2 separate regions of the Homo sapiens genome follow, and region 1 is linked to region 2. The links come from fine-mapping of genetic effects on gene expression. Tissue or cell type: whole blood. Region 2 holds a variant in brackets; the other region holds the start of a gene. All regions are shown on one strand. Distances are between the middles of the regions.

Evidence for each region. PIP is the estimated chance that this variant, and not a neighbour inherited with it, causes the effect.
Region 1: ANAPC5 starts here. The variant in region 2 is fine-mapped to the expression of ANAPC5 in whole blood (TOPMed, PIP 0.99).

What each region holds. Positions count from the first base shown.
Region 1 is chr12:121,349,289-121,357,435 of GRCh38, reverse strand. It overlaps ANAPC5 (anaphase promoting complex subunit 5), which reads left to right and starts at 5,025. Exons shown (of 17, transcript NM_016237.5): 1 at 5,025-5,302. The coding sequence starts at 5,096. RefSeq lists enhancers at 3,249-3,922, 3,923-4,598, 5,023-5,282, 5,275-5,950.
Region 2 is chr12:121,377,762-121,385,959 of GRCh38, reverse strand. The region is part of intron 1 of LOC124903037 (a long non-coding RNA gene); the gene reads right to left. Among named protein-coding and RNA genes, the nearest start is that of RNF34, 18 kb to the left of the region's middle. The variant C/T (reference allele first, on the strand shown) is at 5,034.

The DNA.
Region 1 (8,147 bases), 28 kb after region 2:
TTCTCTTTTTTTCTCTTTCTTCTCTCTTTCTCTCTCTTTCTTTCTTTCTTTCTTTCTTTTCCCTCCTTCCTTCCCTCCCTTCCTTCCCTCCTTCTCTCTCTTTCTCTCTCTCTCTCCCTTTCTTTCATTTTGATACAATGTCTCACTGTCACCCAGGCTGGAGTATAGTGGCATGCTCACAGCTCACTGCAGCCTTGACCTCCTGGACTCAAGTGATTCTCCCACCTCAGCCTCCTAGTAACTGGGAATACAAGCACACACCACCATGCCTGGCTATTTATTTATTTTTTTAATTTCTTGTAGACACAGGGTCTTATCATGTTGTCCAGGCTGGTCTTAAACTCCTGGGCTCAAGCAATCCTCCCACCCTCGGCCTCCCAAGTGCTGGGACTACAGGCATAAGCCACTGTGCCCAGCCTTGGGTAGTTTCTTATGACAATTGTTTTCCTCCACGAGGTCAAACACCTAGTTTGTATATTCACTGCTGTACTCGCATGGACTTAGCACAATGTCTGGCATATAGTACGTACTCAAAAATATTTGTTGAGTGAATGTAAGGATTTGCAGCACAGTTGACTCAAAGGCATATTGACAATAACTGAGCATATACTAAATGTGTCAGAAACTAAGGATGCAAAGATTTTTTTAAAAAAGCAAACCTGCTCCCTGCCTATGACAGCCCACCAGAGGAGGCAGTTACTTAAGTAAGTCATTGATATAAAATCATACACATAATAAATGAAGCTTGAACAAAGTGCTACAAAAATGGTCACATGATCTCTAAGATGATGGAGTAAGTCCAAAAGAGTTCAAATGTTTTCAGGGTTTTGATATTTAGCCATGTTCTTTTTTTTTTTTTTTTTTTGAGAAGGAGTTTCACTCTTGTTGCCTAGGCTGGAGTGCAATGGAATGATCTTGGTTCACTGTATCCTCTGCCTACTGGGTTCAAACGATTCTCCTGCCTCAGCCTCCCAAATAGCTGGGATTACAGGCATGCGCCACCATGGCCGGCTAATTTTTTATTTTTAGTAGAAAAGGTTTCACCATGTTGGTCAGGATGGTCTTGAACTCCTGACCTCAGGTGATCCACCTGACTCAGCCTCCCAAAGTGCTGTGATTACAGGCGTGAACCATGGCGCCTGGCCTAGCAACATTCTTAAAATCAGATATATACATATAGAAAAGTCTAGGCCGGGTGTGATGGCTGACACCTGTAATCCCAGCATCTTGGGAGACTGAGGTGGGAGGATTTTGTGAGCCCAGGACTTACAGACCAGCCTGAGCAACACAGTGAGACTCTATCTCTACAAAAAAATTAAAAATTAGCCACATGTGGTGGTGCATTCCTGTGGTCCCAGCTATTCGGGAGGCTGAGGTGGGAGGATCGCTTGAGCACAGGAGGTGGAGGCTACAGTAAGCTGTGATCATGCCACCGCACTCCAGCCTGGGCCACAGAGTGAGACCCTGGCTCCAAAAAACAAAACAGAACAAAACAAAAAACCCAATAACGATTGATGAGGATTGTAGTGAGTTGGAAACGGCATGCCCTAAATAAAGGTGGCTTATTTATTTATTTATGAGACAGAGTCTCACTCTGTCGTCCAGGCTAGAGTGCAGTGGTAATCATAGGTCACTGCAGCCTTGAACTCCTGGGCTCAAGGTATCCTCCGGCCTCAGCCTCCCAAGTAGCTGGGATTACAGGTGCATCCCAGCACACCTGGCTAATTTTTGTATTTTTAGTAGAGACAGGGTTTCACCATGTTGGCCAGGCATGTGTCAAACTCCTGGCCTCAAAGTGATCCACCCACCTCTGCCTCCCAAGGTGCTGGGATTATAGGCATGAGCCGCCACCTCCAGCCTATTTATTTATTTATTTTTGAGATGGAGTTTTTGCTCTGTTGCCCAGGCTGGAGTGCAGTGGCATGACCTCGGCTCACTACAACCTCTGCCTCCTGGGTTCAACCGATCCTCCTGCCTCAGCCCCCCGAGTAGCTGGGATTACAGGCACCCCCCACCATGCCTGGCTAATTTTTATATTTTTAATAGAGACAGGGTTTCACCATGTTGCCCAGGCTGGTCTCGAGCTCCTGACCTCAAGTGATCTGCCTGCCTTGGCCTCCCAAAATGTTGGGATTACAGGCATGAGCCATTGCACCTGGCCAAAGGCAGCTTATGCTGTGCATATCCAGTCAGTTGTTACCATCTAGGAATAAATCATGTTACCAAATTTTCAAATTTTTCAAGTGAAGCTGGAAATGTAGTTCTTTGTTGGCAGAAATATCCTAATTTTTAAGTGTTGGCAAACACCATGCAAAGCAAATAAAATATATCTAATGAGCCGCATTTAGTTTAGATTGCAACTTCAGTTTGCAACTTCTGGCTTAGAAATTCATCCCTTTTGGTCCCCAGCACCTAGAACAGTGCCTTAAATATAGCAGGAGCTTAGCACAGTGTTACTGAATAAATGAATCAATGGCTTGAAAGTCTTACCAATTTACAGTAAAATTGTTATTTAGGATTTTGTAAAATTACTTTCCTCTTTCCATTCATTAAGTGTTCCTACTCAGGATTTTAAGGTTGAATACTAGTTTATTCCACACAGACCCTTTGTCAAACCTTATTTATGGTATACACATATGCAAAAATATCCTAAAGAGCTGGGAGATTGTAAGTATGCTTTTTCATTAATAGAGTGAGGCATAAAAATAAACCGAGGCAAAGAAAGAGGTTAAGTGAGTATTAAATTCCTGGCAAAAGCCAGCTTCTCCTTTCACAAATAAAAGATAGTTATATAATAATTATGTATGGTAACTAAAACATACAGAGTTCTCAAGATAGGAAAGCTTGTATTACAAGATATCAATGTCTTCTTTTTTGATAGCATCATTTAGCTTATACATATCTGCCTTCTTTTTTGTTTTTGTGAACTAATAATGCATATTCATTCATTATTCATTAAACAAATAGCGATTGAGAAAACAAAAACCAGGCATGAGGCTGCATGCAGTGGCCCATGCCTTTAATCGTAGCAATTTGGGAGGCTGAGGCAGGAGGATCACTTGAGTCCAGGAGTTCGAGACCAGCCTGGACAACATCGCAAGACCTCGTGTCTACAAAAAATAAAAAAATTAGCCATGCATCCAGGCACAGTGGCTCAGGCCTGTAATCCCAGCACTTTTGGAGGCGGAGATGGGCGGGTCACCTGAGGTCAGGAGTTCAACCAGTTCAAGACCAGCCGGGCCAACATGGTGAAACCCCATCTCTACAAACAATACAAAAATTAGCCGGGCGTGGTGGTGCGTGCCTGTAGTTCCAGCTACTCGGGAGGCTGAGGCAGGAGAATTGCTTGAACCCGGGAGGTAGAGATTGTAGTGAGCCGAAATCGAGCGACTGTACTCCAGACTGGGCGACAGAGCAAGACTCCGTATCGGGAAAAAAAAAAAAAAAAAATTAGCCATGCATGGTGGCACAAGCCTGTAGTCTCAACTACTCGTGAGGCTGAGGTGGGAGGATTGCTTGAGCCTGGCATTCCTGAGGGCGAGGGGGTCTCCTGCCCTGCTCATGTCTAATTACCTACTTTAACTGGAGGCTGAGGTTGCAGTGAGCCGTGAGCGTGCCACTGCAGTCCAGCCTCGGTAGCAGAATGAGAGAGAGAGAAAGTATAATTTAAACAAACATAAAAATGGGCACAAGGCAGGCCGGGCGCGGTGGCTCACGCCTGTAATCCCAGCACTTTGGGAGGCCGAGGCGGGAGGATCACGAGGTCAGGAGATTGAGACCATCCTGGCTAACACGGTGACACCCCGTCTCTACTAAAAATACAAAAAATTAGCCGGGCGTGGTGGCCGATGCCTGTAGTCCCAGCTACTCGGTAGGCTGAAGCAGGAGAATGGCGTGAACCAGGGAGGTAGAGCTTGCAGTGAGCAGAGATCGCGCCACTGCACTCCAGCCTGGGCGACAGAGGAGACTCCGTCTCAAAACAAAACAAAACAAAACAAAAGGCACAAGGCACAGTGTGTGCATGTGGATAGCCAAAGTTGAATGGTATGTGGTTTTTCTTTCAAGGGACATAAAGACTAATAGGGATACCAGATCATTAATAATAATTCAGGGTATAGAGAACTAAGTGTCTTGGGAGAGGTACAGATGAACGGAAGGGGAATTGTGAAAAATCAGGTTCAAAATGTTGGCTGGGGATTGCTTTTGGAGGGCTTTGAAATGCAGAGTATAGATTTTGTAGTTTATTAGGTAGGAAACTGACTCAGCACATGGAGGTGATGTTGCTAATGTTCTATTTCACGTAAGGATACACGACCACTGGCAACCTGATCTGGCTGTCTGCAAATGGCATTTGTGAAACGCTGAAGAAAAATCTCATGTTCCTATCTTTAAAAAGACAGAGTTAAACTCCTAAACATTTGAGTTTAAAAGTAACATAATAAATACATACTTTAAGGGTGCAAATTTAATTTCGGTACTTTTAAACACAATCATTTAAACATTCTATTTGAACTATTTTCAAATTACATGAACAAGCCAGGCGCGCTGCCTGTAGTCCCAGCTTCTCGGGAAGGCGGGAGGATCGCTCGAGCCCAGGATTTGGGAGGGTGCAGTGCTCTTTGAGGGCGTCTACGAATAACCACTGCCCTCCAGTCTTGGTAACATAGCGAGATATCGTCTCAAACAACAACAACGACAACCACCACCACCACCACCAACAACAACAACCAACAACAAAAAAACCACTTTGGGAGCTCCTCAGTCCCTTCAGCCCCGACCCCAAGCATCGACTTCCCCTCCCATCCGGTCCCTGTCCACGTAGCCTGGGAACCTGCTCCCACTCGGCAAAAGTTTCTGTAGGGAGTCAGTCTTTTGGTGCACCCCTCCCCGCACTCTTGTACATTCTGACTGGCTGTCGCTCTCCCATGTGCTCTGACAGACTGCTCTGATTGGTTAACAAATGCCGCGAGCACGCGGATGTCTGTTTCCTGGGATATTGTGAGGGCGGGCGGAGATGTAGACCCGGTAGTGTTGTGCCTTGTGGTGACAACTGGCGGCAGCGCGCCGCGGGCCCGAGACTTAGTCTCGGGCCGCCATGGCCAGCGTCCACGAGAGCCTCTACTTCAATCCCATGATGACCAATGGGGTTGTGCACGCCAATGTGTTCGGCATCAAGGACTGGGTGACGCCGTACAAGATCGCGGTGCTGGTGCTGCTGAACGAGATGAGCCGCACAGGCGAGGGCGCCGTCAGCCTCATGGAGCGGCGGAGGCTCAACCAGCTGCTCCTGCCCCTGCTGCAGGTGAGAGGCGCCCGCTGGCTCCTGCTCGTGCAGCAAACTTTTACTGAGCATCTGCTCTGTGCGGAACCCTGGGCTTGGGGACACTCGTGTCCATCAGATACTCTCCCTGCCTGGAGGAACGTGAAGAAATAAAGATAGCTACTACCGGTAGCTAACACGTACTGAGCGTTTACGGTGGGCCAGGCGCTTTACATGCATTTTTTTTTTTTGCAAGTTCATGTCTGGCTCCAGTATTTATTAGCTGAGAGTTAGAGTCTCAGATCCTGTATCTTCTTTAAAATGGGGCTATACAATAGAGCGTTGGAGACACAGGGATAAGTCATACAGGCTCCCTATCCTAGAGGACCGTAATAAACAGTAAAAATGCCATAAAACCGGGCCGGGCGCAGTGGCTCACGCCTATAATCTCCGCACTTTGGGAGGGTAAGGCGGGTGGATCACGAGGTCAGGAGTTCGAGACCAGCCTGACCAACGTAGTGAAACCCCGTCTCTACTAAAAACACAAAAAATTAGCTGGACGTGGTGGCGGGCACCTGTAATTTCAGCTACTCGGGAGGCTGAGGCAGGAGAATCGCTAGAACCTGGGAAGCGGAGGTTGCAGTGAGCCGAGATCGCGCCACTGCACTCCAGCTTGGGCGACAGTGCAAGACTCCGTTTCAAAAAAAAAAAAGGCATAAAGCCAAGGACGAGCACTGATTGAATACTTAACTGTGTGCTAAGCACTTTACTTAAAATTTGTTTTAAATTATTATTATTTTTTTGAGACAGGGTCTCGCTTTGTCGCCCAGGCTGGAGTGCAGTAGTGTGATCGCGGCTCACTGCAGCCTCGACCTCTCAGGCTCAGGTGATCCTCCCACCTCAGCCTCCCAAGTAGCTGGGAGTACAGGCGCGGGTCACTACGCCCAGCTAATTTTTTTGCATTTTTTGTAGAGACGGGATTTTGCCATGTTACCCAGGCTGGCCGGGAACTCCTGGACTCAAGCAATCCTCCCGTCTGGTCTCCCAGAGTATTGGGATTACAGGAGTGAGCCACTGCGCCCGGCCGTCATGTGTTATTTCATTTTGCAGACACAGGTTTAGCTCAGATAATTAAGTTCCTTAATTCATTTGGGTCTCAGTTTTCTCTCTGTAAAATGGGAACAATAGTAGAAACTGTTACTAGCATGTAGTAAATGCTCAATATTACTAGAATTTTCATTTTAGTGTGTTCACATATGGCATATACCTTCCCCTATATCAGTTGTGGTTTTTCCATTTATATTCATGGTTACGTGAGTGATGGCCTTCTCTCCCATTAGACGGTAACCTCCACCAGCTCAGTACTTAGTCCTGTTTTTGTTTACTGGTACATCCCCAAAGCCTCCTAGAATGCCTGAGTAGTTTTTTGTAAAATGAATGAAATGCGATAGAGGTGGATGAGTGCACTCATGGAGAGGATTTTTTTTTTTTTTTTGAGACGGAGTCTCGCTCCGTCGCTCAGGCCAGAGTGCAGTGGCACGATCACGGCTCACTGCAGGCTCCGCCTCCCGGGTTCACGCCATTCTCCTGCCTCAGCCTCCGGAGTAGCTGGGACTATAGGCTCCCGCCACCACGCCCGGCTAATTTTTTGTATTTTTAGTAGAGACGGGGTTTCACCGTGTTAGCCGGGATGGTCTCGATCTCCAGACCTCGTGATCTGTCCGCCTCGGCCTCCCAAAGTGCTGGGATTACAGGCATGAGCCACCGCGCCCGGCCCGAGGATTTCTTACAGAAAGTGTGAAGCTGTGCCTTGATGGATAAGCATTGTCTGTTGAGTAACAGTGATGGCAGAAACAGATCTGGGTCCCTGGGCCTCTATATTATGGGATCTTAAAAGATAAACCTAATAAAATTAGTGTCTAGAGTTGCATTTATATTCCTTAGTATAGTTTATAAAGGCTTTTTTAAAAAATTTATCACTTGTATTTGTGGGTGAGGGGCATGGGAAGAGGGGAGAACTGAGGACACCATGGTCAAGAGACCTACCCAGTTAAATAAAAGGGATGTCTTTATAACTTGTGGCTCCCAGGGCTAGCCACGTCTGCTATTACTATAAATGCATTTCCCTCCATTATTAAAGTTATAATACTAAAATTTTGGTAAATAAAAGGCCGGGTGGGATCACACCTGTAACCCCGGCACTTTGGGAGGCTGAGGTGGGTGGATCACTTGAGGTCAGGAGTTCGAGACCAGCCTGGCCAACACAGTGAAACCCCATCTCTACTAAAAATACAAAAAAAAATTAGCCGGGCATTGTGATGTGCGCCTGTAGTCCCAGCTACTCGGGAGGCTGAGGCAGGAAATCATTTGAACCCAGGAGGTGGAGGTTGCAGTGAGCTGAGATCACATCACTGCACTCCAGCCTGGGCATCCGTCTCCAAAAAAAAAAAAAAAATAGAAACAGTGATTCTGGTCTCTTAACTCTCACCTTCCTGCTCATGTTGTTTTTTGCTGTTTGGAATTCTTTCTGGTTTTTAACCTGGCTAACTACTATATAGTTATTTTATTTAATTTTTTATTTTTAAATTTATTTTTTTTTTAATTTTTTTAGAGTGGTGGGATCTCACTCCCTCAGTCACCTGGGCTGGAGTGCCGTGGTGCGATCCTAGCTTACCATAGCCTCCACCTCCCAGGCTCAAGCTGTCCTCCTACCTCAGTCTTCTAAGTAGCTAGGACTACAGGCACCTGCCACCATGCCTGGCTAATTTTTAAATTTTGGTAGAGATGTAGTCTCCCTATGTTGCTCAGGCTAGTCTTGAACTCCTGGGCTCAAGGGATCCACCTGCCTCAGCTTCCCAAAGTGCTGGCATTACAGGCATGAGCCACC
Region 2 (8,198 bases):
AACATGGTGAAACCCTGTCTCTACTAAAAATACAAAAATTAGCCGGGCATGGTGGCGCATACCTGTAATCCCAACTACTTGGGAGGCTGAGGCACAAGAATTGCTTGAACCTGGGGAGGCAGAGGTTGCAGTGAGCCGAGATCACACCACTGCACTCCAGCCTGGATGACAGAGTGGGATTCTGTCTCAAAAAAAAAAAAATGTAGATTAAGTCAACTCTCCCCACCCTCTTGAGAAGTGCTGACAAGGTCGAGAAGACGATAAATGGGACTAAGCCTTTTTTCAAAGATCATAATCAACACATTTATTAAAACCTTGATTGTGTGTAGTGCTATGCCATGCTAAATGATTCACACAGAGAATTAGCTAAACCTTGCCTCTCTCCTCTAACAGTTTACAATCCAAGGCAGACAGGCTGACGCTCTTGCACATTTATAGCCAAATTAGACAGACGCAATGAAATACGAACATTATCAACTGATAAATGAATAAAGTAGACATTCAGGGAAGGAGACATTCAGATGGTTGTGATAAGAAGAGTTGCCTTGAAAATTCCAATTTCAGACTATGCAGGATAAAAAGATTAGTACTCTTATCCATCACCACCTTCATTTACAATCATGTAAGAATATACATGTGCCTAGGCTGGGCACGGGGGGCTCATGCCTGTTATCCCAGCACTTTGGGAGGCCGAGGTGGGTGGATCACAAGGTCAGGAGTTAGAGACCAGCCTGACCAACATGGTGAAACCCCATTTCTAGTAAAAATACAAAAATTAGCCAGGCATGGTGGCGTGCGCCTGTAATCCCAGCTACTCAGGAGGCTGAGGCAAGAGAATTGCTTGAACCCGGGAGACAGAGGTTGCGAAGAGCCGAGATTGCACCATTTGCACTGCAGCCTGGGCAACAGAGTGAGACCCCATCTCAAAAAAAAAAAAAAAAAAGAGATACATGTGCCTAATAATTGTTCCCAAAAATGTCAACCTTTGTCCATCCTCATTCTGAAACCCTTACACCTTCTAGAGTCACAATACTTGTAGCAGTACTTTTTTTTTTTCTTTTTGAGACAGGCTCTTGCTCCATTGCCCAAGCTAGAGTGCAGTGGCAAGATCATGGCTTACTGCAGCATTGACCTTCCTGGCTCAAGTGATCTTCCCCCCTCAGCCTCCTGAATAGCTGGGACTACAGACACCATGCCTGGCCCGTTTTTTTTTTTTTTTTTTTTGTAGAGACAAGATCTCACTATGTTACCCAGACTGGTCTCAGACTCCTGGCCTCAAGCAATCCTCCTGCCTCGCCCTCCCAAAGTGGTGGGATTACAAGCATGACCCACCATTCCTGGCTGCCTGTAGTAATTTTGTAAGACTATAATTTCAAATGGTATTCTTGAACACACATCTGACTATGTCTTTGCTAAAAGGTTAATAAAATAGCCTTTTCTTTTCAGCACTGCTGCCAAGATTTCCAAAACAGCTCTTTTCATCTTGTATTGAATTTTTTTTTGTTTCAACTGATTCAATTCTATTTAATTCTTATCTCCCCTACTTCAACTTTTTTTTTTTTTTTTTTTTGAGACAGAGTTTCGCTCTTGTTGTCCAGGCTGGAGTGCAATGACAAGATCTCAGCTCACTGCAACCTCCACCTCCCAGGTTCAAGCAATTCTCCTGCCTCAGCCTCCTGAGTAGCTGGGACTACAGGTGCACACCACCACACTCGGCTAATTTTCATGGTTTTTTTAGTAGAGACGGGGTTTCTCCATGTTGGCCTGGCTGGTCTCGAACTCTTGACCTCAGGTGATCCACCTGCCTTGGCCTCCCGAAGTGCTGGGATTACAGGCCTGAGCCACACCACCTGCTGAAGCTAATTCTTTAGAATGGCCCCTTTAATTTGAATGGCTAATTATTACACCATTAGACGCTTGAAAAAAATACTTTTGGCCAGGCGCGGTGGCTCAGCAGTACACATATGCAGGTGTGTATATTGATATGACACTCATAGAAGAGTTCTAGGAATTTGCTCGATATGTTTATAGCTGGGTGTGAACTGATAGTCCCGAAGCTGAAAGTGGAAACTCCAGTACCTAGATTCAGATCCATGTTTCAAGTCGCTCTGAATATCACTTTTTTTTTTGTTTGAGACAGGGTCTTGCTCTGTTGCCTAGGCTGGAGTGCAGTGGCACAGTCACGGCTCACTACAGCCTCCACCCCTGGGCTCAAGCGATCCTCCTGCCTCAGCCTCCTGATTAGCTGGAACCACCAGTGGGCGCCACCACACCTGGCTAATTTTTGTAATTTTTGTCGAGATGGAGTTTTGCCCTCTTGCCCAAAATGGTCTGGAACTCCTGGGCTGAAGCAATTCTCCCACCTCAGCCTCCCAAAATGCTGAGATTACAGGCCTAAGCTACCACACCTGCCTGAAAATTATCTTTAAAATGACCTCAGATGCCTGGCTGAGTAATGTGTAGGTACTAGAATAGGCACAGGGGTGCCATAAAAAATGTTAGTAGATGAATGACATAATCCAAGTTTCTTGGTTTTCGTTGTTTTTCCTGTAAATGAATGACCCCTAATAGAAATTTTCAGTTCATGACTGTTAATGGGGATGGGGGAGAAATGTCCAGATCTGTTGTAATCCTTAGCTTTCTAAAATTCTTGCCCAGCCTCTAAAGCACTGCTCTCCAAATCTTATTATGTCTAAGAATAGAAATATCCTGGAGCGCTGACCTGATAGAAGTATTTTTCAGTTGTTTGATAGTGTTCACCTCGACTCTTATTAGAAGAGAGGGTAGCAAAGATTGGGATGCCTTTCCAAAAATATCGAAGCCTTTATCCAATATGGAATCACTGTCCCACAGCAGTGAGAATTACCTTAAGCAAAGTTATCTTGCTTAGAAAGTTGACTATAAAGACGGCTATGAGGACCGAAATCTTAATTTTCTTTTTTTTTTCTGATTACAAAAGGAAAATGCATTATTGTAGAAATATAGAAAAGTGTACAAAAGAATATTAAAATTACGATTCCACTACTTAAAGATAAGCAGTACCAGCATTTTGATGTACATCTGACAATTACAACAGCCAGACTTAACATTTACTGAGTCTTCTAATTTTTTTTTTTTTTGAGAAAGAGTCTTGCTCTGTCGCCCAGGCTGGAGTGCAGTGGCGGCATCTCAGTTCACTGCAAGCTCCACCTCCCCGGTTCACGCCATTCTCCTGCCTCAGTCTCCCCAGCAGCTGGGACTACAGGCGCACGCCTCCATGCCCAGCTAATTTTTTGTATTTTCAGTAGAGACGGGGTTTCACCGTGTTAGCCAGGATGGTCTCCATCTTCTGACCTCGTGATCCGCCCACCTTGGCCTCCCAAAGTGCTGGGATTACAGGCGTGAGCCACCGTGCCCATCCGAGTCTTCCAATTTTTAAAAAGTATGCTGGCCAGAGGCCGGGCATGGCACACAGCTGTAGTCCCAGCTACTCGGGAGGCTGAGGCAGGAGGATTGTTTGAGCCTAGGAGGCAGAGGTTGCAGTGAGCCGAGATTGTGCCACTGCACTCCAGCCTGGGCAACAGAGCTCGACTCCTTCTCAAAAAAAAGAAAAAAAAAAAAGCTAAGCACTATGCGTTAGAACACAGATGTTCTCATTATTTTAAAGACATGGGGGTCTTGCTATGTTGTCCAGGCTACATTCAAATTTTTCCAGAGAATGGGTGTATCAATTTGCATTTCTATTGGTTTTGTATAGAAACAGCCCAATTCTCTGCACTCTGATCAGCGCTTATTAATTTACTCAAATCTTGGCCAATACTGTGTCTATTTTATTTATTTATTTGAAATAGGATCAAGCTGGGCATGGTGGCTCATGTCTATAATCCCAGCACTTTGAAAGGCCGAGGTAGGCAGATCACCTGAGGTCAGGAATTCAAGACCAGCATATAGCCAACATGGTGAAACCCCATCTCTACTAAAAATACAAAAATTAGCCGGGCATGGTGGCAGGCAACTGTAATCCCAACCCTAATCCCTCTAATATTCTGGAGGCTGAGGCAAAAGAATTGCTTGAACCCAGGAGGTGGAGGTTGCAATGAGCAGAGACAGTGCCACTGCACTCCAGCCTGGGAGACAAAGCGAGACTCCGTCCCCACCCCCCCAAAAAAAAAGAAATAGAATCTTACTCTGTCACCCAGGCTGCAGTGCAGTGGCACAATTACAGCTCACTGCAGCCTCAAACTCCTGGTTTCAAGCAATCCTCCCACCTCAGCCTCCTGAGTAGCTGGGACTATAGGTACGTGCCACCACATCTGGCTAATTAAAAAAAAAAAATTTTTTTTGAGACAGAGTATCACTCTTTCACCCAGGCTTGAGTGCAGTGGTGCGATCTCTGCTCACTGCAACCTCCACCTCCTCGGTTCAAGTGATTCTCACGCCTCAGCCTCCCCAGTAGCTGAGATTACAGGTGCCTGCCACCATGCCCGGCTAATTTTTGTATTTTAGTAGAAATGGGGTTTCACCATGTTGGCCAGGCTGGTCTCTAACTCCTGACGTCAAGTGACCCACCTGCCTCAGCCTCACAGCATGTTGGGATTACAGGCATGAGCCACCACGCCCGGCCAAAAATTTTTTTTTGTAGAGGTAGAGTTTTGCTATGTTTCCCAGGCTGGTCTTGAACTCCTGACCTCAAGCAACCCTCCTGCCTCAGCCTCCCAAAGTGTTGGGATTACAGGTATGAACCACCATGCCTGGCTTTCTGAGTCTAAATAATGGCATTTTTCTTATTTTGATTTGCATTTCTTTTATTTTTGGTAGAGTTAAACATTTTTCTTTTTCTTTCCCTCCCATCTTTATTGAGGTGTAATTGACAAATAAAAACTGTATATATTCACGGTGTACAATATGTTTTGATATATTTATACACTGTAAAATGATCACCACAGCCAGGCGTGGTGGCTTATGCCTGTAATCCCAGCACTTTGGGAGGCCGATGCGGGCGGATCACCTGAGGTTGGGAATTCGAGACCAGCCTGACCAACATGGAGAAACCC[C/T]GTCTCTACTGAAAATACAAATTCAGCCAGGCGTGGTGGCCCATGCCTGTAATCCCAGCTACTTGGGAGGCTGAAGCAGGAGAATCGCTTGAACCCGGGAGGTGGAGGTTGCAGTGAGCCCAGATGGCACCACTGCACTCCAGCCTGGGCAACAAGAACAAGAGCGAAACTCGTTGTCAAAAAAAGATCACCACCGAAAGGCTAATTAACATATCCACCACCTCATGTAATTACCGTTTTTTGGTGGCAAGAACACTAAGTTCTACTGTGTTAGAAAATGTCAAGTATACAATACATTGTTATTATTATTTATTATTATTTTTTTGAGACGGAGTCTTGCTTTGTCGCCCAGGCTGGAGTGCAGTGGCACAATCTTGGCTCACTGCAAGCTCCACCTCCCTGGTTCACGCCATTCTCCCGCCTCAGCCTCCCGAGTAGATGGGACTACAGGCGCCCGCCACCATGCCTGGTTAATTTTTTGTATTTTTAGTAGAAATGGGGTTTCACCATGTTAGCCAGGATGGTCTTGATCTCCTGACCTCGTGATCCACCCGCCTTGGCCATCCAAAGTGCTGGGATTACAGACGTGAGCCACCGCGCCCGGCCTACATTATTATTAGTTACGGTTACCATATGCTATATTTTTGATCTCCAGAATTTATTTATCTTATAATTGAAACTTTCCTTTGACCAAAATTCTCCTGTTTCTCCCTCCCTATGGCTCTTGTCAACCAACCTACTCTCGTTTCTATGAGTTAGACTTCTTTGGATACCACACATAATGAGATCATGCAGTGTTTATCTTGAGTTGAACTTTTTTTTTCCATCAAGCCAATTGTTTTAGCGTCTTTATGTATTTTAGAAACAAATGAGAATTGTAATGTCAAGGCCTTCAGCATTGACTAGTTTGGAGCTAACTCTTAGAATACAAAAAGGTAGTTCCTGGCCGCGCACAGTGGCTCACGCCTGTAATCCCAGAACTTGGGAGGCTGAGGCAGATGGATCACTTGAGGTCAGGGGTTCAAGACCAGCCTGGCCACCATGGTGAAACACCATCTCTACTAAAAATATAAAAATTAGCCAGGCACAGTGGCACATGCCTGTATTCCCAGCTACTTGGGAGGCTGAGGCAGGAGAATCACTTGAACCTGGGAGGCAGAGGTTGCAGTGAGCTGAGATTACTCCACTGTGCTCCAGCCTGGGCAACAGAGCAAGATTCTGTTTCTTTTTTTTTTTTTTTTTTTTTTGAGATGGAATCTTGTTCTGTCATCCAGGCTGGAATGCAGTGGCACAATCTTGGTTCACTGCAGCCTCTGCTTCCGGGTTTTAAGCAATTCTCCTGCCTCAGCCTCCCCAGTAGCTGAGATTATAGGCACGCACAACCACGCCTGGCTAATTTTTGTATTTTTAGTAGAGGCGAGGTTTCACCATGTTGGCCAGGCTGGTCTCGAACTCCTGACCTCACATGATTCACCCACCTTGGCCTCCCAAAGTGCTGGGATTACAGGTGTGAGCCACAATGCCCGGCCGAGACTCTGTTTCCCAAAAAAAAAAAAAAAAAAGAAAAAAAAGGAATTAGCATTCTACTCCTAAGTATATACTCAAAAGAACTGAAAACATATACTAGAACAAATACTTGTACATGAATGTTCATAGCAGTGCTATAAACAAGAGTCAAAAGACAGATATATCCCAAATTTCCATCAACTGATGAATGGATTAAAACATTGTGGTATATATACACAACAGAATATTATTCAACCATAAGAAATGAAGTACTGATACATGTTACAACATGAATGAATCTGGGTAACATTTTACTAAGTCAAATAAGCCAGAAACGAAAGGTCACATACTGTATCACATCCCCCCCTTGTTTTTGCAGGGACAGGGTCTTGCTCTGTTGCCCAGTCTAGTCTCAAACTTCTGCCCTCAAATGATCCTCCAGCCTCTGCTTCCCAAAGTGCTAGGCTTACAGGCAGGATTCACCATGCCTGGCTGAGTCTATTTGTATGAAACGCCCGGTATAAATGAATCCATAGAGACACAAAGCACACTGGTGGTTTCCAGGGGCTGAGGAGAGTGGAGGAATAGGGAGTAATTGCTTAGTGGACACGGGGTTTCCTTTTACGGTGATGAAGAAGTTTTGAAACAAGGTAGAGGTGGTGGTTGTACATCATGGTGAATGTACTAATATTACTGAATTATTCACTTTATTTTTAAAATTTTTATTTATTCTGATGGAGTCTCACTCTGTTGCCCAGGCTGGATTGCAGTGGTGCAATCTCTCCTCACTGCAACCTCCACCTCCTGGGTTCAAGTGATTCTCCTGCCTCAGCCTCCCGAGTAGCTGGGATTACAGGTGCTCACTACCACGCCCAGCTAGTTTTTTTTTTTTTTTTTATTTTTAGTAGGCAGGCTTTTGCCATGTTGGCCAGGCTGGTCTGTTATAACTCCTGACCTCAGGTGACCCGCCTGCCTCGGCTTCCCAAAGTGCTGGGATTACAGATATGAGCACCACGCCCAGGCTGAATTATTCACTTTATTTATTTTTGAAATGTAGTCTTGCTCTGTTGCCCAGGGTGGAGTGCAGTGGTGCAATCTTGGCTCACTGCAACCTCCACCTCCCAGGTTCAAATGATTCTCCTGCCTCAGCTTCCCGAGTAGCTGGGATTACAGGTGGCCACCACCACACCTGGCTAATTTTTTTTTATTTTTAGTAGAGATGGGGTTTCACCATGTTGGCCAGGCTGGTCTTGAACTCCTGATCTCAGGTGATCTGCCCACCTTGGCCTCCCAAAGTACTGGGATTACAGATGTGAGCCACCATGCCTGGCCAAATTATTTACTTTAAAATGGTTAACTTGATGTCATATGAATTTCATCTCAATTTTTAACAAGCTAAACAAAATAAAAGAATTTGCTTTTCCACTGGGCACAGTGGCTCATACCTGTAATCCCAGCACTTTCAGAGGCCAAGGCAGGAGGATCTCTTGAGCCCAGGAATTTGAGACCAGCTTGGGCAACATAGCAAGACCCTGCCTCTACAAAAAAATTAAAAAACTAGCCACGCAAGGTGGTGCGTGCCTGTGGTCCCAGCTACTCATGAGGCTGACGTGGTAGGGTGGCTTGAGCCTGCACAGTGAAGGCTACCATGGTGATTGC